Regions from separate parts of the Homo sapiens genome. Here regions 1, 2, 3 and 4 are each linked to region 5. The links come from fine-mapping of genetic effects on gene expression. A gene starts in region 5. Each other region holds a variant in brackets. All regions are shown on one strand. Distances are from middle to middle. Region 1 holds the start of FDFT1 (farnesyl-diphosphate farnesyltransferase 1). Region 2 overlaps LOC729732 (a long non-coding RNA gene). Region 3 overlaps FDFT1 (farnesyl-diphosphate farnesyltransferase 1). Region 4 has its middle 20 kb from the start of CTSB. Region 5 holds the start of CTSB (cathepsin B).

Region 1 (5,503 bases), 66 kb before region 5:
TTTGAAATGCTTTTTCCCTGGTGCTGGAAAGAAATAGCACTTGTAGGCTGGGAGCCGTGGCTCACGCCTGTAATCCCAGTACCTGGGGAGGCTGAGGCGGGCGGATCACGAGGTCAAGAGATTGAGACCATCCTAACCAACATGGTGAAACCCTGTCTCAACTAAAAATAAAAAAATTAGCTGGCCGTGGTGGTACATGCCTGTAGTTCCAGCTACTCGGGAGGCTAAGGCAGGAGACTCACTTGAACCTGGGAGCCAGAGGTTGCAGTGAACCAAGATCGCGCCACTGCACTCCAGCCTCACGACAGAGTGAGACTCCATTTAAAAAAAAAAAAAAAATGAAGAAGAAATAGCACTCGAAGGCTGGGCGCAGTGGCTTGCCTGTAATCCTAGCACTTTGGGAGGCCGAGGAGGGTGGATCATGAGGTCAGGAGTTCAAGACCAGTCTGGCCAACATGGTGAAACCCTGTCTCTACTAAAAATCGAAAAATTACCCAGGCGTGGTGGTTGGGCGCCTGTAATCCCAGCTACTCGGGAGGCTGAGGCAGGAGAAGCACTTGAACCCAGAAGGCAGAGGTGGCAGTGAACCGAGACTGTGCCACTGCACTCCAGCCTGGCAACAAGAGTGAAATTCTGTCTCAAAAAAAAAAAAAAAAAAAAAAAAAAAAAAAAGGCGCTTGAACATTAATTTACTAAGCAGGCCATTTTTACTTCCTGCAGAAAGGGTACACTCGCCAGCAGTTTTGCCATGGGAGTATACCAAACAAAGGAGACAGGGTCATTTATAACCTGACTCGTCCACCCCACTGCTTGTGTCTAGTTTCCATTGGCTGGAACGGTGCCTCACGTTCTGTATTTGTCCCGATTGGCTAGCAACTTAGAAGTTTTTAAAAGAGGCAAAGGTAGAGGAGAACAAAGGAAGGAGGAAGTAACTTGTGGAATGGTGACAAAGGTTGAAACACCTTCAAATAAGGAAGAGGAACAGGCTATGACCTAATGCTTTCTTGGACCACTATAAGCATGCCAGGGCAAATATTTAGGCTAAATTGTGAGAGCTAAGAACATGAAGTACATTGATTTCTTTATCATAGCTAGCAGATATTTAAGAATGTTAGCACAGGTCTTTGAATAAAGTTTGCTTCTAAGAGAAGTTACTATTTATTCCTAATTAAATGGGGAGGAAAGTCTTTGAAGAGGAACCTCTACTTTACTTTTTATACCGTCATGGCTGGAAACTAAGTTTTTAAGATTTTTCTGGGGTTCCCTTGGCCGAGGTGGGGAGTGGGAGGGCTGTCCAGTGGTAGGGACTTAGGATTTTTAGTTTACAGTAGTAGGGGAAACACTCTGTAATCTAATACATAAGTAAATGATGTATTAGAATATGGTAAATATAGGCAAGTAGACCCCCACTGGGATTAGCAGTGGTGGAAATGTGAGAGAGGGCAAACAGGTGGGTCTAGATGAGGTGTGAGCAGACTCGAGGGGCACAGGAGTTAGTCAAGCCAGTATCTGGGGGATAGTGCAGGAATAGTGAACAGCTAGACAAAAAGTCCTAGGGCCAGAGAAAGCAAAAGCATAAGAGATGGAGGCCAGAGAGGTAATCTGGGTGGAAGGCTGCAGCCTCTCAGGATCCCTATAGGTGCTTTGGCTTTTGTTGGAGAGACACTGAACAGCTTTGGGCAGTGAACGTACCTGACAGGTTTCCTGTTTGTTTTTGAGATGAAGTCTCGCTCTTGTCCCCCAGGCTGGAGTGCAATAGCGCGATCTCAGCTCACTGCAACCTCTGCCTCCTGTGTTCAAGCGATTCTCCTGCCTCAGCCTCCCAGGTAGCTGGGATTATAGGCGCCTGCCACCATGCCTGGCTAATTTTTGTATTTTTAGTAGAGACGCAGTTTCAGCATGTTGGCCAGGCTGGTCTTGAACTCCAGACCTCAGGTGATCCGCCCGCCTTGGCCTCCCAAAGTGCTGGGATTACAGGCATGAGCCACCGCGCTCGGCTAGACCTGACAGGTTTTAAAAGGATTACTGGTTGCTGTGTTAAAACAGACTGCAGGATGGCTTAGGTAGCCAGTAGGTTTTTTTTTTTTTTTGGAGACGTAGTCTTGCTCTGTTGGCCTGGCTGGAGTGCAGCGGTGTCATCTTGGCTCACTGCAAACTCCGCTTCCCGGGTTCAAGTGATTCTCCTGCCTCAGCCTCCGGAGTAGTTGGGACTACAGGCGCCCACCACCACACTCGGCTTTTTTGTATTTTTAGTAGAGACGGGTTTCACCATGTTGGCCAGGATGGTCTCGATCTCTTGACCTCGTGATCCACCCGCCTTGGCCTCCCAAAGTGTTGCGATTACAGGCGTGAGCCACCACGCCTGGACGGGTAGCCAGTAGTTTCTAGGGCTGGAGAGATCTAGGATGAGAGAAGTTTCCACATTCCTGTTACAGGCTCTCTAAGGCTTCAGCTCCTTTTTCTAGGACTAAGCTGGATCTCAAGTAAACACTAGAGAGGGGGCAGCTGAAGCTCCAGGAGTGTGTGGGGCTCCCTGGGGCTGGATGGCGGTGGCGGGCAGGCGAGCTGGGCTGTGCTCGGGTGTGTTACAGTAAAGACGCCCAGCTTGGCGCTGGCCCGGCCTTTTCACGGTTTTAGGCTCTACAGAGAGCGGCTGCAGAGCTCACCCGGCTGGCAGGAGCCACCGAGGCCGGACACGTGGGCGACTTATTGACCAAGTGGGGAGGAAGCAGCCCCGCACTGCTCTCCCGACTGCGGACCACCGTTGGGCTCCTGCGCATCCTAAGCCCCACCGCCTCACCTCCAGTCCCCACAGCGTTCGCGCTCCCAGCCGGGGTAAGCGGAAGAAAACAAAGGCCCGGCTCCATCAGGGCACCAATCCCGCTCGTCGGCCTCTTTCTCGGCCTCCAATGAGCTTCTAGAGTGTTATCACGCCAGTCTCCTTCCGCGACTGATTGGCCGGGGTCTTCCTAGTGTGAGCGGCCCTGGCCAATCAGCGCCCGTCAGCCCACCCCACGAGGCCGCAGCTAGCCCCGCTGGCGGCCGAGGCCGGTTGAAGTGGGCGGAGCGGCGGGCGGGGCGTCGCCGTACTAGGCCTGCCCCCTGTCCGGCCAGCCCCTCGAAGCACCTACTCCACAGGTCCAGCCGGCCGGTGAGCGCCTGGGGACCGCAGAGGTGAGAGTCGCGCCCGGGAGTCCGCCGCCTGCGCCAGGATGGAGTTCGTGAAATGCCT[T/C]GGCCACCCCGAAGAGTTCTACAACCTGGTGCGCTTCCGGATCGGGGGCAAGCGGAAGGTGATGCCCAAGATGGACCAGGTGGGCCGAGCCTCCCTGCTTGCCCGGGGCGGGGAAGGAGCTCGCTGGGCCGGCCTCAGGGCCTGAGCGGCCGGGCCCGGATCTGGGGCAAGGGGCGCGGCGAGCAGGGCCGACGCCTGGGTGTTCCCGTCCCCCTTTCCTCGAGCCTTCCCCCTGTAGGGCCCGGGTGGACGCGGCCGTCCTGGCTGACCTGTCCCTGCCCCCGCAAGCCGCCCTGGGCATGAGCGACTTTTGCGTGGTTCCCGGTGGTTGCGCTCCCCGTTTCGTCCCCTCCGTGAGCATCGGCGCTTACCGGTATTTTAACCCGAGGGTTACACATCTGAGGCAATGTGGGTGGGTTACGCGGGAGAGGACGAGTGAGTTTTTTGGTAAGCGGAATGAACTATGCAGATAACATCACATGAAGGCCGTTTCTGGAATGAAGTCTGACTCCTCCAGTTTCACCACCTCTTCCGGAGCTCTCCCCGCCTTGCTGCCTTCCATCGCTTCATCCTCGGTGCTTCCTGAGTTTTAAAATCGCCTATCTACGCTTCCAAGTTCCAATGAGTTATCTAACGTCTATGGATTAGCTAGGTGGTTGGTGGAAGGTCAGAACTTGGTTTTACTTAGATTTTTATCTGCCTCATGCCTGTACTATTTGTTTAATGAATGCATAGGAGGTGTTTTTATTCCAACAAGAAAATTATTCGTACGCGATTATTGAATGAATAGACAAATTCAGCCAAGTTCTTCTGGTCTGGACCAGCCTGGCTGATTTCTGTAACTTTTTTGGGCCAACAGGACAGTAGCAAATGTGACTCAGGCCGAGGCTTGATAGGTGCCTGAACATCGGAGTCTTTCTTTCAGTGTCCATGTGCTTCAGTAAACACACTAGAAAATAAATTTCTGGTTTTTGTCCCCAGTAGACTACACCCTCATTTGGTGTTATTTTTCACGTGCTATCTTTAATACAGGTACATCCTTCAGTCTATTTGTAGAACATTCAGTTTTCTTCATCTTTTCTTTGCCGGTGCTACATTATTTGAATTATTTTGCTACAGAATAACTTCTATTATTTGATATGGCAGATGTCACTTTTTATATTTAGATATAGCATTCATTTATTTAACAAATATTTGACGACCAGTTGTATATCAGATAGTGTTCTAGGTGCTGGAGGTACAACAGTGAACAAGCTAGGTGAAGACCTTGATTTTATAAAACTTACTTTTTAGTGGAAGAGAGACAATTTAAGAAAGCGAATGTACAGTTTTTCACGTGGAGAAAAGCACTGCAGAGGAAGATACTAGCAGGGCAAGGGATCTGAGTGCAGTCAGACCTCATTTGGGTCCAGACTTCATTCCTCTATGTCTCTTTCCTTTCTACAGAAAGACTGTTAGAGAAAATGGTAGCATTGGTTTCCTGTTGGGAGGGAAAGTGGGTGGTCATGGTAAGTGGGTAGAGAAAGACTTCACAGTATACTGTTTTTGTACATTTTGAGTTTTTTTAAAAGCGAGACTTGAGCTATTCTAGCTCTGATAATATGGTGCAGTATTTGTTATGTTAGTTGTAGTCTTTCTGGGCAGTTTTTACATCCCCATGAGCCGTTAAAAAAATACCTGAACCTTTAATTAGGGGAAATAAATTGGAAAAATACATTTCCCTTCACTTAACATTATCTTAGTTTCTCTTTTTTTTTTTTTTTTTTTTTGAGATGGAGTCTTGCTCTGTTACCCAGGCTGGAGTGCAGTGGTGGCGGGACCTCAGCTAGATGCAGCCTCCGCCTCCTGGGTTCAAGCAATTCTCCTGCCTCAGCCTGCTGAGTAGCTGGGATTACAGGCACCTGCCACTACGCCCGGCTGATTTTTTGGTATTTTTAGTAGAGACGGGGTTTCACCATGTTGGTGAGGCTGGTTTTGAACTCTTGACCTCAAGTGATCTGCTCGCCTTGGTCTCCCAAAGTGCTAGGATTACAGGCGTGAGCCACTGCACCCGGCCTTTTTTTTTTTTTTTTTGAGGGGGGGGTCTCACTCCATCGTCCAGGCTAGAATGCTGTGGCCTGAACATGACTCACTCCAGTTTTGACTTCCTTGGCTGAAGCCATCCTCCCACCTCGGCTTCCTGATCCCGAGTAGCTGGGACTCCAGGCACGTGTCACCAATGCATGGCTAATTTTTAAATTTTTTTGTAGACACAATGTCTCGCTGCATTGC
Region 2 (6,189 bases), 790 kb after region 5:
TAAAAATGGTCAGGCATGGTGGCTCATGCCTGTAATCCCAGCACTTTGGGAGGCCAAGGTGGGCCGATCACTTGAAGTCAGAAGTTTGAGACCAGCCTGGCCAAACCTCATCTCTACTAAAAATACAAAAGTTAGTCAGGCATGGTGGCATGCACGTGCATTCCCAGCTACTTGGGAGGCTGAAGCAGGAGAATCGCTTGAACCTGGGAGGTGGGCTCCCCAGGCTTAAAGCAAAACCCCCATCTTGTCTGTCTCCACTCTCATCCCAGGCAATCGCGGTCATTTCCACAGCCTCAACCACTGTCTACCTGGGATGCCTCCCAAGCCCGAGTCTCCAGCCCAAATCTGCCTTCCTAGCCCCAGACCCATCTGTCCTGGCACACATTGCCCCCTGGGTCCCAAGCAACCTCAGCCAATGAGTCCAACGTCAACTTCCTGTCCTTGCCTGACACTAACAGCCCTGAGATCAGACCTGACCATTCACCTCCAGTACCAGATAGGTCCGTCAGTCCTTTGGAACATATCCCACGAACATTCCCCAAACCAGGCACCGGACTCCACACATCAACACCGTCACGTGAGTCACCAGCATCCCTGGCAGGGACCCCTGTCCCAGCCTCCAAATCATCTCCTTCCTGTCCCTTGAGTTCTGTGTCACATTCCAGAGGCCACAAGAAGAAAAATGACAACCTTACTGAAATTAAAAGAATTGAGAAGACATCTCCATATGGTCCAAAGTCTTTCCAACTGAGAAACACATATCAAGATCCAGCCTGCCAACCCTGGGGTTAAATGTTCCTGAAATAATTAAAGCCCAGGGCAACACAGCCCCCATTCCAAAGTACTCCCAACATAGTAAGACTTGCTTCTCTGGATGGGCTCGAAATGTCCAGTGTGTACCCTGCCCCTCTCTGTCGTAGCTAACAGGAATGTGTTTCATGTCTTCTTCCTGCTCGAAGGACCATCCACCAACCTGTGCAGGCAGCACTTTTGGCCAGGGGAGGATGCTAGAACTTCCCACCATTTCCCACTTACGCACTGCATTCCTCAGGAGCCTGCCTCACAAATTACAAGAGCGCCACAGCAGACACAACACGTTCCAGCAGGTGGCCATGTCTTCATGTCAGCTTGAAAGATCATCACCAGGGAAATATCTATATCTCGGCAGAGAGAGCTTCAGCCTGTGTAGTCCAGCTGTGCTCAAATGGAAATCCAGAAACCCAGATGTTGGTCCAAACACCCTGTCTCAGGGAGCTGGCTCTGCAGGTCCCCAGCGTGGGAGTGAACCGGGTGGGCCACCTGCCCTTCCTGCCCACATCCCTGCTTCCTGGAATCCTGGACCCTGAGAACCAGGGGGACATGGTGGGGAACAGGCAAGTCTTGTGCAGAAAGCCAAGATGCCACCCAAATCCACTCTGCAGTCTAGGTGGGTGACATTCTGCTCTGCACCACACCAGTACATGAGGGGATGGAGGATGGAGTCTAGACAACCCAAATGTAGAAAGATATTGCCCAAGTATTTTGTGATTTGTCTGTGTTACAATGCTATGCCCAGCCCAGGGTGGTGGCTCACACATGTGATCTCAGCACCTTGGGAGGCCGAGCTGGGTGGATCACCTTAGGTCAGGAGATTGAGGCCAGCCTGGCCAACATGGTGAAACCACATCTCTACTAAAAATACAAAAATTAGCCAGGTGTGGTGGTGGGCAACTGTACTCCCAGCTACTTGGGAGGCTGAGGCACGAGAATCACTTGAGCCCAGGAGGTGGAGGTTGCAGTGAGCGGAGATCATGCCACTGCACTCCAGGCTGGGCAACAGAGTAAGACTCCATCTTAAAAACAAAATAAAGATAAATAAATGCTATGCCCAGCATTTTCAATGTACTGTCTTATTATCTCAGTAAATCCCATGTAACCTTCCTATGAAAGTGTATCTCATTTATCTCCATTTCATAGATGAGAAACCTGAGGCCCCTGGAGTTGTATTAATTTTCCAAGACTGCATTGCTGATAAAGAGTACAGCAGGGACCCAAGCTTGACACTCTCACCCTCAAACATTTCCACAAGTGTAGACCAATGGCTCTCAACTGGAGTGGTTTGGCTCACGTACAACTCCCTTGCTCCACGGCATTTGAAACCATCTGGAGACATCTGGAGTAGCCATAACTGGGAGGGTAAAATGGTACCTAGAGGATGGAGACCACAGATGCTGCTAACCATCTTACAATACACAGGACAGCCTCCCCACCACCACCACCACCATGAATGGTCTGACCCCAAATGTTGTGACTGTGCCAAAGCGGAGAAACCCAGATTTCTCCTCAGCAAGAAGGAAAATCCCTGCAACGTGGATGCACCTCTGCAGGAATCCCTCTGCAGGAGCCCCAAGATGAGAATAACCTTCCTGATCTGGTTTCAACCCTGGATGCTTTCAACTGGTGCGTCCATCAAGGATTTCAGGGACTCCAGTGAGTTATTATCCTCGAATGCTCGGTTCTGCCTGACAACCCAGAAATCTCTGACAAGATGCCTGGTCTTGGGGAAGGCTCAGCAAGTGGTTGAGGTTGATAACCAAATACCTAGGAGAGACTTTGCTCTCCCTCCAGGAGGAGCTGTGGGTCAGACACACCCTGGGATCATTCACAAGTTGTCAATAAAGGCTTGGGGAGGGCCAGGTTTTCTAGGCCTTCTCAATGGGGTCGGTGTTTGTGGATACACAAGAAGCCTGTGAAACTTCTGATATTGGCAGGAAATCAATGC[A/C]CCCCACCCTCCACCTCCCCACATCCCCACTATAAACACATGCCCTGCAGCAGGACTTGCAACACAGGGGCTCCTGGGGTCCCGATTTATCTGCTAAAACATCCTCTAGCCACCACCGAATAAAGAAACCCCTTGCCACCCAACCACAAGAGCACAGCCTGGGAGCCACTCCAAGGGACACCAAGTCACATTAAAACCTCAGCCATCCAGAGCACCAGGCCTGGTGATGAGAAAGAACATTTTATCCTTAAAAGCATCTGAATGCCCATGCTGCTTCTTATAGAGAAAAGTCCAAAATAATCTGATATTAAAGAACGAGGATGGTTTTGGCATTTTTACCAAGCTAGTGGTCTACGCAGACAAAATCTCATAAAAGGGCACTCTGTTCTTCTTGATCCACTCAGACATGGCCTGTGAGTGAAGAAACTGGCTCTTGTCCTCAAAGAAATCACTGCTGATCCTCGTACCAGCCTGACACTGCTTCATGGGTTCTTCAGAAAGAGTATTTCCATAGAAACTAAAAAGGAAGAGGAATGTGTCTGGCGGGCATTGTGGGCAGCAGTGGGCTTTGGGCCAAATTTTAAGTTTGAAAATCAAGATTCCCTCTTTTCAAGGGGCCACTGGACTGAGCAGATACAGACACCGTGAAAAGAGGGTGCCATGTTCAGATTCAGGAAACAAGGATGGTTTCTATTCAGTTCCTCCATCATCCTTCAGGTCATGCGATTCCCATTACCCTCTGTGGACCAAACAATTCAGTGGGGTTTCTGTCTTTTAAATATTTCATTATCAACATATCATCCTTTTAGCCTCCAGAAAGCATTTTAACATGGAGATTCTGGCTTAAGACTCTTGTGGGTCTGTCTGTCTCTCTCTCTCTCTCTGTCTTTTCCTTGAAACAGGATCCCACTTTGTCACCCAGGCTGGAGTGCAGTGGCATGATCACAGCTCACTGCAGCCCGACCTTCCAGGCTCTAGCAATCCTCCCACCTCAGCCTCCAAAGTACTTGGGACTACAGGCACACACCACCATACTTGGCTTTTGTTTTGTTTTGTTTTGTTTTGTTTTGTTTTGTTTTTTGGTAGATATGAGGCTTCACCATGTTGCCCTGGCTCGTGTTAAACTGCTGGGCTCAAGCGATCCCCCCTTCACCCTCTCAAAGTGCTGGGATTATTGGCTTGAGCCACCACGCCCGGCCAAGGACCTTGTCTCTTGTGATGCACCCCAGAACAAAACATCACTGCAAAAACACACTAAGGCATGAGTTTCAGTCCTGAGTCCCATTTATCCGCCATACACTATGTGCCAGGCACAACGCTAAGTGCTTCTATGGACGAGTTTCCCTTAATCTCAGCAGTAACAACCGCAGGCACTGGGGTCTGTAGACCGATCCATTTGCCACTGAAGACAGTAAGGCTCATAGAGGGTAAGTGGCTTGTGCCATGTCAGCCAGCGAAGGAGGGGCAGAACCAGGATCCAAACCCCAGCTGCCTGGCTCCAGACTCGTGTTCCCAAGGTCCCACTACGCTTGGTCACCTTACTGCATTATAGTATCCTGGTCTTTGGCAGAGTCCACGTAAAAGAAGGAGGTAGAGGGAGTGAGAGGGCCTTCACGCAATAAAGTTTCCCGGCGTTACACTGCCACCGTAATTGTGTTCCCGATCAGGACCTCTCCCTTCTTATCCTGTCCGTGATTGGCCCTGGAAAACCTTCCAGAGAACTGTCCTCCTTCTCCTGGGATCTCAGAGAAAATTCACCTGAGTTCAGTGTCCAGGTGACCCAAGCTCTGAATGCAGTAACGAGCACAGGGAGATGAGGATGTCACCATGAGAAAGCCTCCCAGGCAGCATCCGGGAGCAACCCCAAGACTGGGCAGGGTGGGGCTCTGATGCAGCCCACGGCGAGGAGGGCTGCCCATGCTGCCTAAATGGGTTCAGAATGAAGGCCGCCCTCTCTCCCATGTGGGGCTCATTAACCACGAATCCAATTATTAAGACAAGCTCAGTTAAGTAAATGGTCAAACATAAAAACATGTGGAAGGAACAAAGAGGTCAACCCCATTATCCATCAAAAACCATCAAGGTGGCAGCAGTCACTGAGGGGTACAGCTCTCCAGCTGGCCTTCATCTGCTCTCCAAACTCACGTGCCTCCCCAGTGGAAGGCCAGCAAAGCCACACAGGAAGATTTGGGGTAGGAAAGCAGAAAGTGAACCCCAGGAGGCCAGGCTGGCCACGGAGCACCATCCCACACACACAGGCCCGGTGACTCAGGGGCCCACGTGTGCAGGACACCGGGAGCTCATAGGGACAGCGCCCCAGGGAATGCAAGGAACTTTGCCTCTCTGTCCCTCTCTGTAGGGATGGAAAGAGAACGATTTCTGGGATGGAAGCCATCTGCCTCCTCTCAACTCTGGCTGCCCAACTAGAAAGGGAAAAAAAAAACAGGAAGATGCGGGACAGGTGACGAGCTGGGTGAGCGCCACCAGCCCGCAGCCCAGCAGAGCAGGGCTTGGCCAAGCCTGGCACCAGGGACTTCCCCCCTGCCCCCACCACAGGCCCCTCGCCAGGTGAGAGGCACCGACAGAGTCCCAGACAGATGCCCCAGACAGGATGCCCAGGGCAACCCCCGCCCCTTCCCCTGCTGGGGGCCCCAGGACGCGGGGCTCCCCCTCCCCTTTTGGCCAGCTGCAGAGTCCAGCGGGTATCCCAGCCAGGGACGTCGTGGGAGAATCAGGAAGTCGAAGCCACACAGCCGAGAAGGGGCAGCTGGCGTCTCGGAGGCCGTCACCAGCTGTCACTCCGTGCCGCCGGAGTTGCCGCTCAGTAACCAACTTCAACCCGGAACCGGCCACGGAGCCTCCCGCCGCCTCTACCCCGCGTCCCCGGCACCTCCGCGCCCCCGGACCCCCGCGCCCGCGTCACTTACTCCTCTGCCGTCGCCACCTGTCTGGGTGCCGGTGTCCTCCTTGCCCGGCCGCAGCGCGTCCTCCCCGTCCTCGCAGTCCTCGGGCTGTGCTCTTCCCCCCTCCAGCAACAGCCGCAGCCTCTTCTCTTCAGGAGGGACGTCGTCCTCCTCCCTCCTGGGCCGGCCATCCCTGCCTCGGGGCTTGCCAGTGGCTTCGGAGCTGCCGGAAGGGCTGGCCATGGCTCCAGGGGCTCTGCCTGCACTTGGGGAAAAAGAAGCACCCGGGGCGAGCGTCCTCTCGGCGGAGCTGGGGCGTCTGAGCGCGAGCTTGCTGGGTCCGCGAGGCGCGGAGCTGGGCATCGGGGCGGGCGCGGGCTCCTCCGCGGGCCGCTCCTGGCTCTCTGGCGCCCTCTGCTGGCCTCTCCCGCGCAGCGCGGACACGCCGGGCCCGGGCCTGCGCCGCGCTCACCTGTCCTGGCCCAGGAGGTCGCTGTCCCTTGCCCGTGGCCAGGCCCGCTCTGG
Region 3 (6,189 bases), 36 kb before region 5:
TTCATACAGCAGCTCGAACCTTGTGAGGAGCTGCCAGACGCTTTTCCAAGGTCGCTCCACCATTTTACATTCCCGTCAGCAGTGTGAGAGTCCCAGTTTCACCAGCACTTGTTGTTATCTCTTTTTAACTGTATGTATATATACTTAACATTTTATTTATAATAAATGTACATAATAGAGAATTTGCCATTTTAACTATTTTTAAGTCTATTATTCAGTGGCATTAAGTACATTAATGATGTTATATAACCATCAACACTATGTTTCCAGAACTTTCGCTAGCTTCAGAGAATCCTCTAAATAATATCATTAAAAATCATCAAGCCGAATCCCACTGTTAGAATTAAAGGTTTTATTTCACTTTCAAGTTATCAGGATCCAGGGAGGTGTAATACACTTAGAGGATAGACTCAGCTCATTTCCCAGCTATGCCTTTCAGCAGCTTTCTTACCAGAGTAGGAATATAATGTTAGTCATTATTTAGAGGCCTGGCCATCTTGAGAAGGTTTACTGTTTAGTCTGCAGTACAATTATAACTGTTTTTGTATATTGGGTTATTTTTTTCAGAAGTAGGCCAGTAGCTCTAACAGGAGCCTCTTTAGCCTGAATTCGTCCAAGTAGTGCAGTGTTGCACTAGTTGTCCCTCGGGACATGCTCCCCAATACGTAACTCACTTCCAGGTTGCAACTGGACACTTACTGGTAGTCAGAAATAGCTATTGCATGGAGCTTAAAATGAACTTGATCTTCGTGAAAGATGAGTCTGCAGCTAAGAGACTTTACTGTATATCATAGTGTTTTTTTTTGTTTTGTTTTGTTTTTGTTTTTGTGACGGAGTCTCACTCTTTCACCCAGGCTGGAGTGCAATGGCGAGATCTTGACTCACTGCAACCTCCGCCCCCTAGGTTCAAGCAATTCTTCTGTCTCACCCTCCTGAGTAGCTGGGATTACAGGCGCCTGCCACCGTACCCGGCTAGTTTTTGTATTTTTAGTAGACACAGGGTTTCACCACCTTGGCCAGGCTGGTCTTGAACTCCTGACCTCGTGATCCACCCTCCTCGGCCTCCCAAAGTGCTGGGATTACAGGCGTGAGCCACGGCGCCCAGCCTGTATCATAGTTCTTATGCACAAAGACCCTTTAATATTGTTTGTAAATTCTCCCCTATGCACACGCTGACCTGTTCCTTAATCTTCTTATCTGTCTAGGTTTGGAGCAGGTATGTTAAGAAGTTAGGGGATTTTGCTAAGCCGGAGAATATTGACTTGGCCGTGCAGTGCCTGAATGAACTTATAACCAATGCACTGCACCACATCCCAGATGTCATCACCTACCTTTCGAGACTCAGAAACCAGAGTGTGTTTAACTTCTGTGCTATTCCACAGGTAGGGAAGGGGGCTCCTCTGGGTGGATACGGGGCTAAAGGGAGTGGGGTAGGAGTAAGGGTGGATTTTGCTGTGCTATATTCAAGGATATGATTCCTTAAAAAGACGATGACTCCAGTTTATTACGCTGGGAGTTTCATAGCACCCGCCTTTGCTTCCAGCCACCAAACTCAGCTCAGCCTTGAGGTTAAGCCTGCTCCTTTTCAGAACCTTCTTTCTGGATTTACTATTTTCTACAGCTATCCTAAACTAGTTAGGTTCTTTTCCTCACAGTTAAGTCAAGGTCTTTGGCTTAGATTTATGGGGAGTGCTGGGTAAAACCTGGGTGAAGCTGTTATCATTAAAAAGTCTTCATTAAGCACCTAATTACTGCTGTCCTTTTCCTAGACCCGGCATAAAAAGAACCTGGTCCGGTAGACCTAGCCTCTCAGTATGCTAGGAACTTACACTTTTTAGTTGCCTTTACCAAGTATTGCAGATACTACTGCAAATAAGTGAAGAAAGTAACAGCATTTAACTGATTTGGGAACTTGGTTTGATCTTGTTCTAATGACCAACTTCGAATGGTGGTTGAAAGTAAAATCTGTATCGCCGTCTTATGTTTCCATTTACCTAGAAATACTTTACCTTTGAGCACAGGAAATTAATCCCCTTCTGGTTGTTCTCCCCCTGGCATTGGTTTTAAATATATAATGATTATGTTTGTTGTAGGAAAAATAGAAAAACAACTACAATAGAAAATTCTTCCCATATATTATTTTGAAATACATATTTCCGATCCGATAATCCATTGCTCTAGCATGGAAAATGTTGGATTTACTTGTGTTTGCTTTTTCCAAATAAAATGGAACTTTTGTGGCTACATTATAGAATTGTTTTAGACTGCTTAATTCTGTGTGTTGTTGAGAAAGGGAGGAGTGGGGAAGGTAAAAATCTTGACATACTTTCTTCGTGGGTATTTTTTCTTGAGCGATTCCATCTTAGTTGATTAGCAGTTAGCAATTGCCCATTCAACAGAAGGTTTTCTTACCTTTTTGTGATAATGATAGCTAACGACATCATTTCTTCTTTTTTCCCTCTCTTCTTGTTGTCTCTAGGTGATGGCCATTGCCACTTTGGCTGCCTGTTATAATAACCAGCAGGTGTTCAAAGGGGCAGTGAAGATTCGGAAAGGGCAAGCAGTGACCCTGATGATGGATGCCACCAATATGCCAGCTGTCAAAGCCATCATATATCAGTATATGGAAGAGGTGGGTTTTTATTTAACTACTTGGATAATTTGTAGCTACTTTTATGAT[T/G]TAGTAATGTCACTGTTTAACCAGGTTTGGATATTAGATGATCCTAACAATTCACTATCCTGTGGCCTAAAGAGACAGGAATTGATATCCTTTATAAGGAAAAAAGTCTATTCACAGGAGCCGAGCAGATTGCTCACTGCTGTGTAGTACCCTGGTGAGAGGAGATAAATGGAGCAAGGCTGTAGGTTGGAGCCCCTCAGTAGAATCATAGATTTTGAGCTGCAAGATGATGCAGGAGGCCAACCAAGCTTCTTGTTGCTGGTGAGGAATGTGAGGTTGAAGCTTGTCTGTGCTGATGCAGTGCGTGATTGAGTGGATCTCTGGCTCCCGTCCATGTGTCCTGACACCCAGTCTGGTACTTTCATTATGCCACAGGCCTCAATTGAAAAATCACAGTAGGGAATTTAGGCCAAGGAAAGCCATCAAGTTGCAATTATTTCCTAAATTTTCTTTGGAAAATTTCATTTCAAATACCAAAACCATCCTATAAAAAGAAAACTTACCTTCTTAGGTCAAATCTCTAATATTTGACTAGGTTCAAAAAGTTTATTTCTGGCCAGGCACAGTAGCTTACTCCTGAAATCCCAGCACTTTGGGAGACCAAGGTGGGAGGATCACTTGAGGCCAGGAATTCAAGACCAGCCCGGGCGACATAGCAAGACCCCATTTCTACAAAAAATTTAAAAATTGTCATGGTGGTGCACGCCTGTGGTCCCAGCTACTCAGGAGGCTGAGGCAGGTGGATCACATGAGCCTGAGAGGTCGAGGCTACAGTAAGCTGTGTGATTTCATCATTGCACTCTAGCCTGGGTGATAGAGTGAGACTTTGTCTCAAAAAAAAAAAAAAAAAAAAAAAAAGTCTTAGAGACCAGAAGTCTTTGTAATCTCTAATAATCTCTAGGCCCTAGAGCAGTGGTTTGTAAATGGAGGTGATTTGCTCCCCTCCCCCCAGAGGACATTGGACAATGTCTGGAGACATTTTTGATTGTCCTAACCGGCAGGAATCGGGTGCTACTGGCATCTGGTGAGTAGAGGCCCAGGATGATGCTGTGATCCTCAGGTGTGATCCTGTTGAGAATGAAACACTGTAGACTTTATGAAAACATACAAGACCCTCATCATTTTTCCTTTGCCTGAGCTCCCTCCCCAGAGGTTACCTCTGTTCATGGTTTTGTGCATCCGTCTAGTCCCCCTGTTACGCGTTTACAGGAATATGGTTTGCAACAGTGTTTTCATCTAAATAGAATTATACAAAATAGCGATTTCTGATTTCTCTTGCATATTGCACATTCTTCTTATACTTCCTCCCTACCTTTATCTGACACAGAAATGCTGTATGTCCAGAACTTCTATCAGAGGCACCTATGGAAGTCTAAGGGAAGACCACATCGCTTTTAAAAACCCTAAAATTTTGTAGTCACTAGATGAAAATATTCAGCCAGTGACCCAAAAAATTGCTACCAATGAGACTCTCCATTTTGCCATGTAGCCAGAACTTACTTTGATCTATGTGCCTGGGGTAGTGACCAAGTAGGTGGGTAGGAGTAATCTCAGGGAAACTTGAGGCCCCAGCCTCATGGCTAGGGTCATAATTTGAACCCAGGTCTGTCTGACATCAGAATCCATGATGTTAACCCCAATTCTAAGGGGTTCAACTACCCTTTCTAAATGGAATCCTGCTATATTAAGCACTATTTATTCATTTTATATAAACTAGAAACATTTTATGTAGTAAGTAGTTGAGAGTGTTTTGGTTTTGCAGTTTGATCACTAGTTTTAGAAACCAGTTTTTAAACACTTTGTGGCCAATTCCATTACTATATTAAAATTCAGATTTATTTGGTTTTTCCTTAACTATTGGGATTAAATCCTGGTTGTAATTCATAGTTTGAGGGCGAGGGTGGGCAGTCTACAGTTGGCTGAGCCCTGTTTTTGTGAATAAATGTTATCAGAACACAGCCACACCCATTTGCTTCTTTGTCTTCTGTGGCTGCTTTTGCAATGTGACGGCCGAGTTGAGGAGCTGCAACAGGCGATGACTTGTAAAGCTGAAAATATTTTTTGGCCCTTGAATAAGAGGTTTGCTGACTTCTGACTTAGGGTATCAGTTGTTCTGTTATCCCAGTAAAACTCAAGGCATTAGGGGAGAAATGTTAATATTAATACTTAAGTTGATTTGATTTAGGGAAATCTTTGAAGATTTCTAAGTCTTAAGCAGTAGAACCTGTTAATGGTTTTAGTTTCAGCAGTAAGGACATTTTACAAGTAAAGTTTTAAATGAAAACATTTTGTATGAAGCCACAAGTCGTCTGGCCTCTTGCTGGTGTCCAGATATTAACACTGATCCTATTTCTCCTTGCTGACCAAGTCTGTCCTTTGTAGTAAGAAAGGAAGAAACGTTGACTCTGTCCGATCTCTGGACTTAGTGTTGTAGCGAGCATGCACCTGGAAGGGACTTGCCAGAGGACCTCCTCATGCTTCTCCAGTGCTTAGTGGGGGCTTGGAGTGCAGCCCCAGGTCTTCACGAGCAGTTGGCCACACTGCAGGGCCCTCACCCCACTCTGGAGCAGCCTCTGCTTCAAACCAGCCTGGATGCTTGTCAGCTGGGGAGAAGATCAACCTGCTATTTTGGGATAGAAATAAATGCTCAGCCAAACGGCCAGAAACCCCCATTCCCCTCTCTGCCAAAGTGAATTCCTTGGCAGGGAGAATCTTGTTCGTGTCTCTGCACACTTCCTGTGCCCTCCTGTGGTTAAGTCAGAGAATCATCCGGCTCTTTGAGCCCCAGGTGCCTAGCTGCTCAAGGATGGTCCCCAGCCAGCAGCTGCCAGGAATCACCTGGGAGCCCATTAAGACATCCAGCCCCCACCCAAACGTATCGAATCAGAATCTGCCTTTTTTTCCCAAATGATGTTTTTGCTTTAATGGAAGTTTAGATGTTCATAGACAAGAGTTTTAAATGATGATCAAGCTGATTCCATATTCGCAGTTGTAAGTAGAACTGCTGAGACGTGGAAGTACCACATGGACTCACAGAGGAGCTGCTGTATGTAGCACAGCATTGCACAAGAGCTTATTTCAGTCTAGTAAACATTTATAGGAGCCTGTGTCATTTAATCATCAAGCCTCGCACTGTGGCTCACACCTGTAATCCCAAAACTTTGGGAGGCTGAGGCAGGCAGATCACTTGAGGTAAGGAGTTCGAGACCAGCCTGGCCAATATGGCAAAACCCTGTCTCTACTAAAAATACAACATTTAGCCAGGTGTGGTGGTGCACACTTGTCATCCCAGCTATTCCGGAGCCTGAGACATGAGCATCGCTTGAACTCGGGAGGTGGAGGTTGTAGTGAGCTGAGATGGCACCACTGCACTCCAGCCTGGGCAACAGGGTGAAGGCCCTTTCTCAAACCCCTCAAGTATTTGGCTTCAACTTTATGCCGGGCATGTAGATGAAAAGTCGGCTATGACCTGTCCTTGACAAGCAGATGTAACTCCTTGATTGAGGCTA
Region 4 (6,004 bases), 20 kb after region 5:
TCCCTCAGCTCCTTCCTGCTAAATGAGTCCATGGATGAGTTATGGGAGCCCCTCAGGCAATCCCCCACTGGCCTCAAGAGGTCTTGGCACTCACTATGCAATACAGTTAGAATTCTCTGGGAAGCAGACGGAACTGAACCATAACTATTATCGACTCTCGAGATACCTCCCCAAGATGTGTGTTCCCCTTTACCAGAAAATATGCCAGGCAGAGAAAGGAGAAAGTTTCATGCCAGAAGGATCCCTTGCAAAAGTCCCCTGGGTCTACAATCTACATTTGCTTTTTTTCTGTTTTGATTTGACAGTTGAAAAACAAAAACCTAGCCCGTCATTATTCTAAGTAAGGCAAGAGAAGCTTGACAGGATGCCTTCGTGAGCCCCTTCTCTGCAGCAGGGGAAGAAAGAAAAGGGGCTTGAAGCCTCTCTGCAGAGGCTCTTCCAGAGTGTGGCTGCAGGGTCCAGGTGACCCGTCAATGGCGGTAAGGACCCTGGACAGGCGGGCAGTGAAGAGGCCCCTTCGGTGTGGGACTGCCCCATATTGCATGGCACTACTTTGGACAGGGACTAATGAGACTGTGAAAACATGTTGCCTGGCCTCTGTCTCTTGGTGTCCAGAAACTTCTGCGTTACTGTGATGGAAGCATTCAGACGAGGCTGGTCTGCAGAGGCCACTGATGTCCTGGGTGCTCCTGAGCCTGCAGCCTCCTGCAAGCCCCCGCTCCACAGCCAGGACTCGTGAGGCCTTTGGAGGCCCTGGAGGTTTGCTTTGCCATCTCTGCTTTGAGGGTCACGGAAGCAGAGTCTGACCCCACAACCAGCCCCATGCCTTCCTTCCTCCCTTCTGTTCATTTTCCCAGTGAAGCTTAGAGGGCTCCTTCTGTTGGCCATGCCTGCCCACCCTGCTGTCCTGGTCCTGGGCCCAGACCACACTTGACTTTTCCTCTGTCTCCAGGATGCACTGGATGGCTGTGTGACTGCCCATGGCATAACCTTAGGGGGTGCCACTCACATAAATGGTGAGGTGAATTGCACTATGGAACGCAATAGCCCATGAGCCCCGTCCACAGCTCATTACAGTCCTGGTCAGGGCGGAGTCCATCAGAGGCTCCCCGGGTTGGCAATTCAGGGTTTTTGTTGCTGTTGTTTCGAGAAAGGATCTTGCTGTGTCATCCACGCTGGAGTGCAGTGGTGCAATCACGGCTCGCTGCAGCCTCAATCTCCCGGGCTCAACTGATTCTCCCACCTCAGCCTCCTAAGTAGCTGGAACCACAAGCATGCACCACCACGCCTACCTAATTTTTTATTTTAATTTTTTTCTTTTTTTTTCCACCTATGTGACAACTGAAGATCCCAGCTAATTCTTTTTTTTTAAGAGATGGGGTCTTGCTATGTTGCCTAGGCTGGTCTTAAACTTCTGGACTCACGTGATCCTCCCACCTCAGCCTCCCAAAAATGCTGAGGTTACAGGTGTGAGCTGCCGCATCCAGCATTTTTATTTTTTATTTTTTTGAGACAAGGTCTCACTCTGTTGCTCAGGTTGGAGTGCAGTGGCACAATCATGGTTCACTGCAGCCTCAAACTCCTAGGCTCAAGCAATCCTCCTGCCTCAGCCTCCCAAGTAGCTGGGACCACAGGTGTGTGTCACCACACCTAGCTAAATTAATTAATTAATTAGTTATTATTATTTTGTAGAGACAGGGGCTCCCTATGTTGCCCAGGCTGGTCTTGACCTCCTGGTATCAAGTGATCCTATCACCTTGAACCCTCAAAGCGCCTATCCCTATTTCTCTTTTTTCTAAAAGAAAAAGTTCAGTGACAATGACAAGTGGTAATTCACACGTGGCCTCAATGTTGCGGAGAAACTAAAGGACGGAGGAGGAAAAGTGGAACGTGTAAGCCTTAAATAAAGACGGTAGCTTCTACTTAGTTCTAGCAGATTCCTGCCAAGAGAGGATGATAGCAGAATGTTGCCATGGCTGCTTCTTTATTCGCTAGAAGCAGAAATCCGTATTTTTGGATGAAGCTTCCTGCTTTTTAAATGTTGGCTCAAATGAAAGACAAAACAGGAATCCAGGCTAGGGGAGAGGGTGACTTGGAGCAGGGGGCTTGCAGGGAGGTGTGAGAAGTGAGAATATTCTGAAGGCAGAGATTTCCTCATGGGTTGGGTGTGGGCTATGAGAGAAAAAGACAGAAAAAGAGGAAGCAGGATGATTCCAAGTTGTTTTTTTTTTTTTGAGACGGAGTCTCGCTCTGTCGCCCAGGCTGGAGTGCAGTGGCGTGATCTTGGCTCACCGGAAGCTCCACCTCCCGGGTTCACGTCATTCTCCTGCCTCAGCCTCCCGAGTAGCTGGGACTACAGGCGCCCGCAACCACACCCGGCTAATTTTTTGTACTTTTCGTAGAAATGGGGTTTCACCGTGTTAGCCAGGATGGTCTCGATCTCCTGATCTCGTGATCCACCAGCCTCAGCCTCCCAAAGTGCTGGGATTACAGGCATGACCCAATGCGCCCAGCTTCTTTTTTTTTTTTTTTTGGCTGAGCCTCTGGGCTCCTCCTAATGACCCCCTGCGTCCTGCTTTCTCCCTCACGCCTGGCATGTCAGTCTCAACGCAGCGCCCGAGGGCTTCTTTAAAACCCAAGTCAAATCATACACTCCTCTGCTCAAAGGCCACCAATCGCGCCCACACCATCAAAGTAAAAGCCCAGGCCCAGGAAGTAGAATGGGGGCTGTCAAGAGCTGGGGAAGGGGGAGCTAGTGTTTAATAGGTGTAGCGTTTCAGCTGGGGGATGAGAAAGTTCTGGAGATGGATGGTGGAGATGGTTGTGCAACAATGGGAATGCTATAAACGTGGGTGGGGAAGACTTCAGAGGAGGAAGTTTTATGGGGGAGAGCAGGAGCTCAGTTTGGGGCATGTCAAGAATGAGATGCCTTATTAAACATTCGAGCCAAGACACTGAACAGAGCTGAGTCTGGAGTTCACAGAGAGCCAAGCTGGGGACATGGATTTGCAATCAATCAGTGCACAGATGGCATCAGTTCCACGGGACTGAGAGTTCACCAGCGTAGCGAGAACAGCCAAAACCAAACCAAACCAAAACGTTCTCCACAGGTCCCAGGAGTGAGCCAGAGACTTTAAGCTGAAAGGTCAGCCATCCAAGGAGGGATCAG[G/A]AAGGGGAAGAGGAGGAACAGCAACGAGGGAGGGAGGACCGCCGGAAGGGTGAGCGCTATGCTCGTGGGCTCGGGCGGAGTGGCACCTCGGGAGCTTCCTACTATCAGGGTTTGTGCCTGCACGAATCTGTCTACAGCCACTGCTAAATCTGAGGGCCATTGGGAGGCAGTTCAGGGTTTGGAGTTGTGTGAGGAGACAAGGTTAGGGATGGGAATTGAGGAGCAGTGCAGGAGGGCCGGGCGTGTAGGGAGGTGCCCCATTGAAGGGAGTGGGAGTGTGTGGGTTGGGGAGCAGCTGTTCAGAGGGGTCCACTGTGGCCCCCAGACTCTGGGCTGATCCCCAGAGTAAAGAAGATGGACATATCCTCTAGGGACCTGCACTGTCCCCTCACACCCCCATAAGAATGGTCTGGGGCTGCTGATAGAAGGCTCCTCAGTCAACTGACTTGGGGACTGACAGGGTCTGATGGTGAGAGGCAAGGACAGGAAGGCCTGCAAAAACGAGGCCTGGTCTGTGGTATGGTCTAAATAGTGACTTCCCTCAAAGTCACACAGTGACGTCCTAAGCCCAACTACCTTAGAATGTGACTATATTTGGAGATAAGGTTTTGATTTTTGTTTTGTTTTAGAGACAGGATCTTGCTGTGTTGCCCAGGCTGGAGTGCAGTGGCATGATCATAGCTCACTGTAGCCTCTTCTACCTGGCTGAAGCGATCCTCCTGCCTCAGCCTCCTGAGTAGCTGGGACTACAGGCATGCGCCACCACACCCAGCTGTTTTTTTAAACAGTTTGTAGAGACAGAGCCTCACTATGTTGCCCTGCTGGTCTCAAACTCCTGGGCTCCAGCAATCTTTTCGCTCCCACCTCCCAAAGTGCTGGGATTACATTGTGAGCCACCACACCCAGTCTTTGGAGACACGGTCTTTAAAGAGGTAGTTAAGTTAAACGAGGCTGTTAGGGTGGGCTCTAATTCAATCTGATTGGTGTCCTTATAGGAGGAGGGAGAGACATGAAGGCTGCACATACACAGAAAAAAAAAAAAACCCAACAACATGTGGGGACACGGAGAAGGCATAGCCTGAGGAGAAACCAGCCATGCCAACACCTTGATCTCAGACTTCTAACCTCCAAAACTGTGAGAAAACGAACGCCTATTGTTAAGTTGCCCAGCCTGTGGTATTTTGTTACGGAAGCCTGAGCAAACTAACACAGCCTGGCATTTTTGCTCTGAAGTTTACAGGATTGATTGGAATTTATGGGAATAGATTTATAGTTGCACAACTCAATGCTATGCAGGGATTTTCTCCAGCGTGATTCCTTTGGTGAAACAGTGGCCCCCACTTCCTACTGTCTGCCCAAACCCAAGCCAGCGAAAGTGTCCATTCACCCATCCATTCAGTCATTTACTCATTCATTCAACAAATATTTATTGAAGACTTACTGTAAAGGTCTTATAAAAGGTGATGGAACCTTGTCCATATCAGGGTTAGACATGGCTAAGTTCTGGGGAATTAGAACATATTATTAATCTCCATAACAAATACAGCTTTTGATGACACACAGAAACGAATGAAATCGGACACAAAGTCCCAATCAGTTTTTGGAAATAATCCACAAAATAAATGGAAGTTTCAGTTCCATAAACAACTAAATTGGATCCAGATATCAGATAATTCCACATTATATTGAAAAAGAAGAAATCGGGCCAGGCATCAGCATGTTGGGAGGCTGAGGTGGGCAGATCACTTGAGGTCAGGAGTTCAAGACCAGCCTGGCCAACATGGTGAAACCTTGTCTCTACTAAAAATACAAAAATCAGCCAGGTGTGCTGGCACATGCCTGTAATCCCAGCTACTCAGGAGGCTGAGGCATGAGAATTGCTTGAACCTGGATGGCAGAGGTTGCAGTGGGCCGATTGTGCCACTGCACATGGTTTGGCTGTGTCTCCACCCAAATCTCATCTTGAATTGTAACTGCAAGAATTCCCATGTGTCGTGGGAGGAACCTGGTGGGCAGTGATTGAATAATGGGGGCAGGTCTGTCCTGCACTGTTCTTGAGATGGTGAATGAGTCTCATGAAGTCTGGTGGCTTTAGAAATGGGAGTTTCCCTGCACAAATTCTCTCTTCGCTTGTTTGCCCCCATGTGAGATGTGACTTTCACATTCCACCATGATTGTGAGGCCTCTCCAGCCATGTGGAACTTTAAGTCCAATAAACCTCTTTCTTTTGTAAATTGCCCAGTCTCTGATATGTCTTTATCAGCAGCATAAAAATGGACTAATACCATCTTGTATACTGTTTGGTTAATAAATGCCCTTCTGGGAGACAGGCCTCACAACATCCACAAAAGCTGGGCTGCTTTCTGGGGCAGAAAGAGCTTAATGAAGATTAATATCTTTGTGTTGAGTGAACTCTGAGATGGCTCCCTGTGGTCCCTGACTCCTGGTGTTCTCACCCTTGTGTAATGTCCCCAATTGTGTGCAGGCAGGACCTTCGATTTGGTTTTAACAAACAGAGAAGAGCAAAGATGATAGGATGTCACCTCTGTAAATATAAGATGACGACTTGTGTCTTGGTGGCAGACTCTCTCCTTTATAAGCTTTCATAAAGCAAGTTGCTTGATTGGGGAGGCCCACAAGGCAAGAAACACAGGGTGCCTTCTGGGAAAAAACACCTAGGAATCAAGGCCCTTTGTTCAACTGCCTAAAAGCAATTGAGTCATGTCAACGACCAAAAAGTGAGCTTGGAAGCAGATTCTCCCCAGTTGGGCCTTTCGATAAGACTCAACCTTGCCTGACACCTTGAGTGTGGTCTTGTGAGAGACCATAAAATGG
Region 5 (6,189 bases):
AAAATTAGCTGAGTGTGGAGGCACATGCCTGTAATCGCAGCTAGTTGAGAGACTGAGGCAGGAGAATGGCTTGAACACAGGAAGCGGAGTTGCAGTGAGCTGAGATCTTGCCACTGCACTCCAGCCTGGGTGAGAGAGTCAGACTCCACCTCAAAAAAAAAAAGGAGAGAGAGAAAAGAAGAATCGACATACCTGTAACTCCTCCCTCTCAATGTTTCAGTCCATATCTCGAAAGGACGGTATGTTACTCTACACAACCACAACTCATTACCAGATTTAAGAAAATTACCCCTCCACCGCGCGGTGGCTCATGCCTGTAATCCTACCACTTTGGGAGGCTGAGGCGGATCACTTGAGATCAGGAGTTCGAAAACCAGCCTGGCTAACATGGTGAAAGCCCGTCTCTACTAAAAATACAAAAAAAAAAAAAAAAGCCAGGTGTGGTGATGGGCACTGGCAATCCCAGCTACTTGGGAGGGAGGCTGAGACAGGAGAATTGCTTCAACATGAGAGGCGGAGGTGGCAGTGAACCGAGATCGCACCACTGCACTCCAGCCTGAGCGATAGAGGGAGTGTGTCTCAAAAAAAAAAAAAAAAGAAAGAAAAAGAAATTAAGAAAGAAAAGAAAATCACTGACAGACATCCCAAGGCACCCCTGAAACGTGACCTCCCTTCAATTCACTTCCCAATCCAACCAAGAGCAACAGAAAATATCTGTTACCCCTAAAATGGGTGCAACTTCTCTTCCAACTCCCAGGTCCAGCAGCTGGGGAAAGAAAAGAACCTGCCTACAAAAAGAGCCTCCCCAGTCTGCTAAATCAGCACCACATGGGCAGTTTCAACCTGGAACCAAAGGGCCACCACCCCTCACCGCCTAACCAGTTGGAAACAGGGCTGTCCTGAGCCAACACCCAGGAGAGCTGTGCCAGGGCCGTGTCTGGCCTGCGTTGCCACCTGGGGAGCAAGGGACCTGTGCCTTTCCACCAGGGGGTACCCCCAGCTAGAGGACAAATGACCAAAGACGAAGGGAAGCCTCTGTTCTCCAGGAGACGTTTGACTCTGTCTTTGGGAAAGCTACACAGGGTGGGCGGCCCAGCCCCTTTCTCCAGGAGCTGGCGGGTTCTAAGTCACCAGCACCAGAGCCAACAAGAAACAGTTCTTGGCCAGGCACCGTGACTCACCGGGAGGCCGAGACAGGCGGATCACCTGAGGTCAGGAGGTCAAGATCTGCCTGGTCAACATGGTGAAACCCCATCTCTACTAAAAATACAAAAATTAGCTGGGCGTGGTGGCGGGCACCTGTAATCCCAGCTACTCGGGAGGCTGAGGCAGGAGAATAGCTTGAATTTGGGAGGCGGAAGTTGTAGTGAGCCGAGATCGCGCCACTGTGCTCCAGCCTGAGAGACAGAGCCAGCCAACGCCCTCTTAGGCCTCTTCGCCTTACGTTCCTGAACGTTTGGATTCAAAGAGAGTGCATCTCAGCTATCCTCTCCTCCGGCAGCAGGCAGTGGGAATGTTTTTCCAGGCTACAAAAAGGTGCCAGGTCTGCATTTGAACCCCACAGCGTCACTTCTCCAGTGGGTTTGGGGGGTCTCTCGTCCGTTAGGAGGAGGAGTGTGGGGCCTGCGCTAGGGTCCTTTTCTTTGCCAGCCTGCTGGCTTTCTCAGCGCCTGGGAAGGGGGTGACAGAGGCCCACCAGGAAGCCAAGTGCAATTCACTTCCACCTGGGTCGCCCACCCCAGCCTGCCTGCAACGCCCCACACCCAGCACCCACTGCTCCCCAGAGGCCAACTCCCCCCGGCCTCCAGGGCTACTAACCGAGGGGGAGGTGGCGCCCCAGGGACTCTGCCCGGCCTCCCTTTACTGGAGTCCAGGAGCAGGGTGCGCCCCCGGCCTTCTCCCCACCGGCATCCAATCGCCCATTCGCCTCTTGGTTTCGCTGTCTGGTTTCTCTTCCTGTTTATGGATTTAACACCGTGCGGCTTCCTCCCCAGCCCACCCAGTGCCAGATTCCTGTTCTTCAACAGGACCTGTCTTCTGGGGTCCCAGGAATTGCGTGGGATCTTGCGCAGAAAGTTGGCCAGGCAAATCCTTCGCAATGAGGGGGAAATAAACCGAAAATAGATGCCGGCAGATGCGATTATGTCGGCAGTTTGGCCCGGAGACACCGAGGCCCAGGCGCTGGGAGCGCGGTCCCAGGCAGCAGTCTCCGGACCCGGCCGAGCTCTTCCTCGCAGGCGCCTCCCTCGGCGGTCCTGGCCGCGTCCCCGCTCCGAGGGCCGGGGTCCGGCGCACAGCCCGGGGAGGGGAGCGGAGGGCAGAGGGCTGGCGGGCGGAGCTGTTTTCTGCTTTTCTCGCCGACGCTTCGGAGCGCGCGGACTCCCACCCCAGCCCGCCCGTCAGGGACAGTCCCGAGGGTCCCGGCTCCCCGCCGGCCCCCAGGGACGCCGCGGGGCCGCGCCTGGGCCCGACTGAGGGCGCAGAGGAACCCGTCTCGGCGGCCGGGTAGCACCGTCCCCGCCAAGGTCACTTACGCTGCGGTGGCCCCGGGTCCCCAGCACTCACCCAGCGCTGCAGCCGAGAGCCTGCAGCCCAGCCTGCGCGCAGCGGAGCGGTTGGCGTTGCCGGAGCGGTTGCCGGAGCCCTGCAGCCGCCGTAGCCTGGGCCAGCCCCGGCCCTAAGTACCCTCCCGGCCCCGCCCCACGTGACCACCGCGCAGCCCCGCCCGGGCCCTCCCGCCGCCCGCGCACGGTGCTTCCCAGCCCCCACCCCCTCCCGCCACCTTCCGCCGCCCGCGCTCCCCGCTTCCCGGCCCCGCACACCCCCCGCCCCCTTCCGCTCGGGGTCCGGGGCCACCGCCGGGGGCGGGCGGGGGCCTGAGCGCGCGGGCTGGGGAAGAAGGGCTTGGAGCCCTGCGGGCCCTGGGTGGCGAAACGCTGCGAATTGGGGCCAGGGGATGGGGAAAAAGCCCCTAAAGGTGGTCCCAAGGCCCCCACCCCGCCTAGAAAAGTCCCCCCGCCTCGCGGGACCGCCTCCGCCAGAACCCGCGCCTGGGATCCCTGCCTGCCGAGTTGGCGGGGGTGGGGTGGTGGAGAGGGCGCCGTCGCTTATTTCATTCATTCAGAAGCCGCTGCAGAGGCTGGGGGTGGCGAGGCTGTGGACCCCACAGAACAGCCTTTAGAAGGGCCACTTTGTTGTTCAGAGAACGTACCCACAAAACACTACAGCTACGTACAAATAGAAAAGAGTGGCTGTCACTGCGAAGGAACCTAGGAGCTGCGTCAGGATTTCTAAGAGGAGAAGGACCTTGGGGGCGGAAATCGGTTTGGCACAGGAGTACCCGGAGACCTGCTCCGAGAGGACGGACAAAGTGCACATTTACTTGGGGTTTATTACCGGGAGGCCCTGGAAGGGAGATGCAGGGGTTGGCTCAAGACTCACCCTCCTCCAGACACTCCCCAAACAGCTTTAATCCTTAAGACAAACCTGCAAAGCAGGCATGACCCCAGTTGTATTCAAGAGGCTCAGAGGGGCTGGGTTCGGTGGCTCACGCCTGTAATCCCAGCATTTTGGGAGGCCGAGGCCGGTGAGTCACCTGAGGTCGGGAGTTCGAGACCATCCTGACCAACATGGAGAAACCCCGTCTCTACTAAAAATACAAAACTAGCCGGGCGTGGTGGCGCGTGTCAGTAATCCCAGCTACTCGGGAGACTGAAGCAGGAGAATCGCTTGAACCCGGGAGGCGGAGGTTGCGGTGACCAGAGATCGCACTATTGCACTCCAGCCTAGGCAACAAGAGTGAAACTCTGTATTAAAAAAAAAAAAAAGGCTCAGAAGAATCGTATTTTATCCAGGCTGTGGCGACAGTAAGAAGGCAGTAGCCGGGTGCAGTGGCTCACGCCTGTAATCCCAGCACTTTGGGAGGCCGAGGCGGGCGGATCACGAGGTCAGGAGATCAAGATTATCCTGGCTAACACGGTGAAACCCCGTCTCTAGTAAAAATACAAAAAATTAGCCGGGCGTGGTGGCGGGCGCCTGTAGTCCCAGCTACTCGGGAGGCGGAGGCAGGAGAATGGCGTGAACCCGTGAGCTGAGATCGTGCCACTGCACTCCAGCCTGGGCGAAAAGCGAGACTCCGCCTCAAAAAAAAAAAAAAAAAAAAAAAAAAAGGCAGTAGGACTGCATGGGACCTGGTTCCCTGCAGCCTGGTCGTCAGCTGTCACACAGCCCTGAGCCTGTCTTCAGAGACATGCCTGTACTCCCGCCTGGTTAGTAACAAACTAAGGATAGGAGTGGAAGGAAAAAATAATCTCTGGAGCCCAAACATGGTCACTAAGCCCCCAGCAGAGTGGGATACCCGAGGAACTGAGGACCAGGAGGCTGGAGGTCAAGGTGGTCCCAACTGCCTGCTCACCCTAGTCATATCCTGACAGCCATGGACTCTGGACTCCAAATCATTTCAGACCTCTATAAGGAGCTCATAAGATGGCCAAAATGGGGAGGACACAGCCAGAACCAGGATAACTCTCCCCTCTCTCATCCTTAGAGTGTGACAGAAGGTATGCAGAGCAGAGTGCTTGACATGCGTTATGGCTATTTGATGGAATTTTCCATCAGTGTCATTATAGAAATCACTTTTGAGAGGTAAAAATCACTTTTGAAACAAAAGAAACAGGCTAGGCGCGGTGGTTCACCACTGTAATCCTAGCACTTTGGGAGGCTGAGGCAGGCAGATCACCTGAGGTCGGGAGTTCCAGACCAGCCTGGCCCAAATGGTGAAACCCAGTCTCTACTAAAAATACAAAAATTAGCTGGGCGTGGTGGTTCACGCGCCTGTAATCCCAGCTACTTGAGAGGCTGAGGCAGGAGAATCGCTTGAGCCCGGGAGGTGGAGGTTGCGGTGAGCCAAAATCACGCCATTGCACTCCAACCCGGGCAAGATTCCATCTCAAAAGAAAAGAAAAGAAAAAAAGAAATAGGCCAGGCGCAGTGGCTCACGCCTGTAATCCCAGCACTTTGGGAGGCCAAGGCAGGCGGATCACGACGTTGGAAGTTCAAGACCAGCCTGGCCAACATGGTGAAACCCCGTCTCTACTAAAAATACAAAAATTAGCTGGGTGTGGCATTGCGGGCCTGTAATCCCAGCTACTCGAGCGCTGAGGCAGGAGGATCCCTTGAACCAGGGAGTCAGAGGTTGTAGTGAGCCGAGATCACGCCATTGCACTCCAACATGGGCAAGACTCCTCAAAAGACAAGAAAAGAAATATATTACTACCAGAGTAGAATTCGTCCCTTCCTGGAACATCCAGGAAAGCTTCATGGAGAAAGGAACATACAGCATATTTACTTGTATATGTTCCTTCCTGCCCTCACTGGATCTTAAGCCCCACCCAGGCAAGCATTTTTACCTGCGGTGTTCCCCTGCTTCATCCCAGCTCATTGCAGGGTGTCTGGCCCATAGCAGAGGATAGAGAAATGTGAGTTGAGTGGATGCATAATGAATGAAGTAGGCCTTGAAGTTGAGGAGAATTTTGGCTTAACCTGCTAGATTTGGGGGTCAGGGTTCAGGGCCTGGGGAACAGCTCTCAGAACTTACAGAGAGGCCTTGACTCACGTGTGTAAAAGCTGTTTGCTTGTTGAACATCCGTAAAAGAGGCCTAAGTTAACACCTGAAAGAGGTGAAAACATACGTCCTCACAAAAATCCGCCGGGCACAGTGGGCTCACGCCTGTAATCCCAGCACTTTGGGAGGCAGAGGTGGGTGGATTACTTAAGCCTAGGAGTTCAAGACCAGCCTGGGGAACATAGTGAGACCCCAACTCTAAAACAAAAGTTAATAACGTATGTATAAACTTACACCAGATGTTTATAGCAGCATTATTTACAGTAACCAAAAGGTGAAAACAACTCAAATGTCCATCCATTAAAAACCATTGCACGAATAAACAAACTGTCATAAATCCACCAAATGGAGTTTTATTCAGTCGTAAAAAGGAATGAAGTAGTCACACATGCTACAACATCGATAAACCTTGAAAACGTTTACTAAGTAAAATCAGCCAGGTCCAAAGGACTCAGTATTGTATGATTCCGTGAAATCCACATGGGAGGTTAGGTAGGTGACAGCTAAAGGGTGTGGGGTTTCTCTGGGGGCTAATATGAATTTTTTTTTTTTGCCGAGACAGAGTC

Evidence for each region.
Region 1: its variant is fine-mapped to the expression of CTSB in whole blood (TOPMed, PIP above 0.99).
Region 2: its variant is fine-mapped to the expression of CTSB in cerebellar hemisphere (GTEx, PIP 0.96).
Region 3: its variant is fine-mapped to the expression of CTSB in whole blood (INTERVAL, PIP above 0.99).
Region 4: its variant is fine-mapped to the expression of CTSB in whole blood (TOPMed, PIP above 0.99). The same link has a PIP of 0.9 or more in blood mononuclear cells.

What each region holds. Positions count from the first base shown.
Region 1 is chr8:11,799,621-11,805,123 of GRCh38, forward strand. It overlaps FDFT1 (farnesyl-diphosphate farnesyltransferase 1), which reads left to right and starts at 3,121. Exons shown (of 8, transcript NM_004462.5): 1 at 3,121-3,311. The coding sequence starts at 3,213. It overlaps LOC105379243 (a long non-coding RNA gene), which reads right to left and starts at 1,735. Exons shown (of 3, transcript XR_948962.4): 1 at 1,693-1,735. RefSeq lists enhancers at 395-1,038, 1,168-1,910, 1,911-2,652, 2,690-2,849 and silencers at 683-742, 2,920-3,169, 3,380-3,499. The variant T/C (reference allele first, on the strand shown) is at 3,233.
Region 2 is chr8:12,653,442-12,659,630 of GRCh38, forward strand. It overlaps LOC729732 (a long non-coding RNA gene), which reads right to left. Exons shown (of 9, transcript NR_047662.2): 2 at 5,689-6,189. Among named protein-coding and RNA genes, the nearest start is that of MIR5692A2, 63 kb to the right of the region's middle. RefSeq lists an enhancer at 5,196-5,848 and a silencer at 6,044-6,163. The variant A/C (reference allele first, on the strand shown) is at 2,762.
Region 3 is chr8:11,829,039-11,835,227 of GRCh38, forward strand. FDFT1 (farnesyl-diphosphate farnesyltransferase 1) reads left to right here. Exons shown (of 8, transcript NM_004462.5): 6 at 1,206-1,382; 7 at 2,480-2,632. Among named protein-coding and RNA genes, the nearest start is that of FDFT1, 29 kb to the left of the region's middle. The variant T/G (reference allele first, on the strand shown) is at 2,681.
Region 4 is chr8:11,885,184-11,891,187 of GRCh38, forward strand. No RefSeq gene overlaps it. Among named protein-coding and RNA genes, the nearest start is that of CTSB, 20 kb to the left of the region's middle. RefSeq lists a silencer at 5,942-6,004. The variant G/A (reference allele first, on the strand shown) is at 3,170.
Region 5 is chr8:11,865,436-11,871,624 of GRCh38, forward strand. CTSB (cathepsin B) reads right to left here and starts at 2,652. Exons shown (of 10, transcript NM_001908.5): 1 at 2,566-2,652. RefSeq lists an enhancer at 1,916-2,125 and silencers at 2,216-2,545, 2,686-2,805.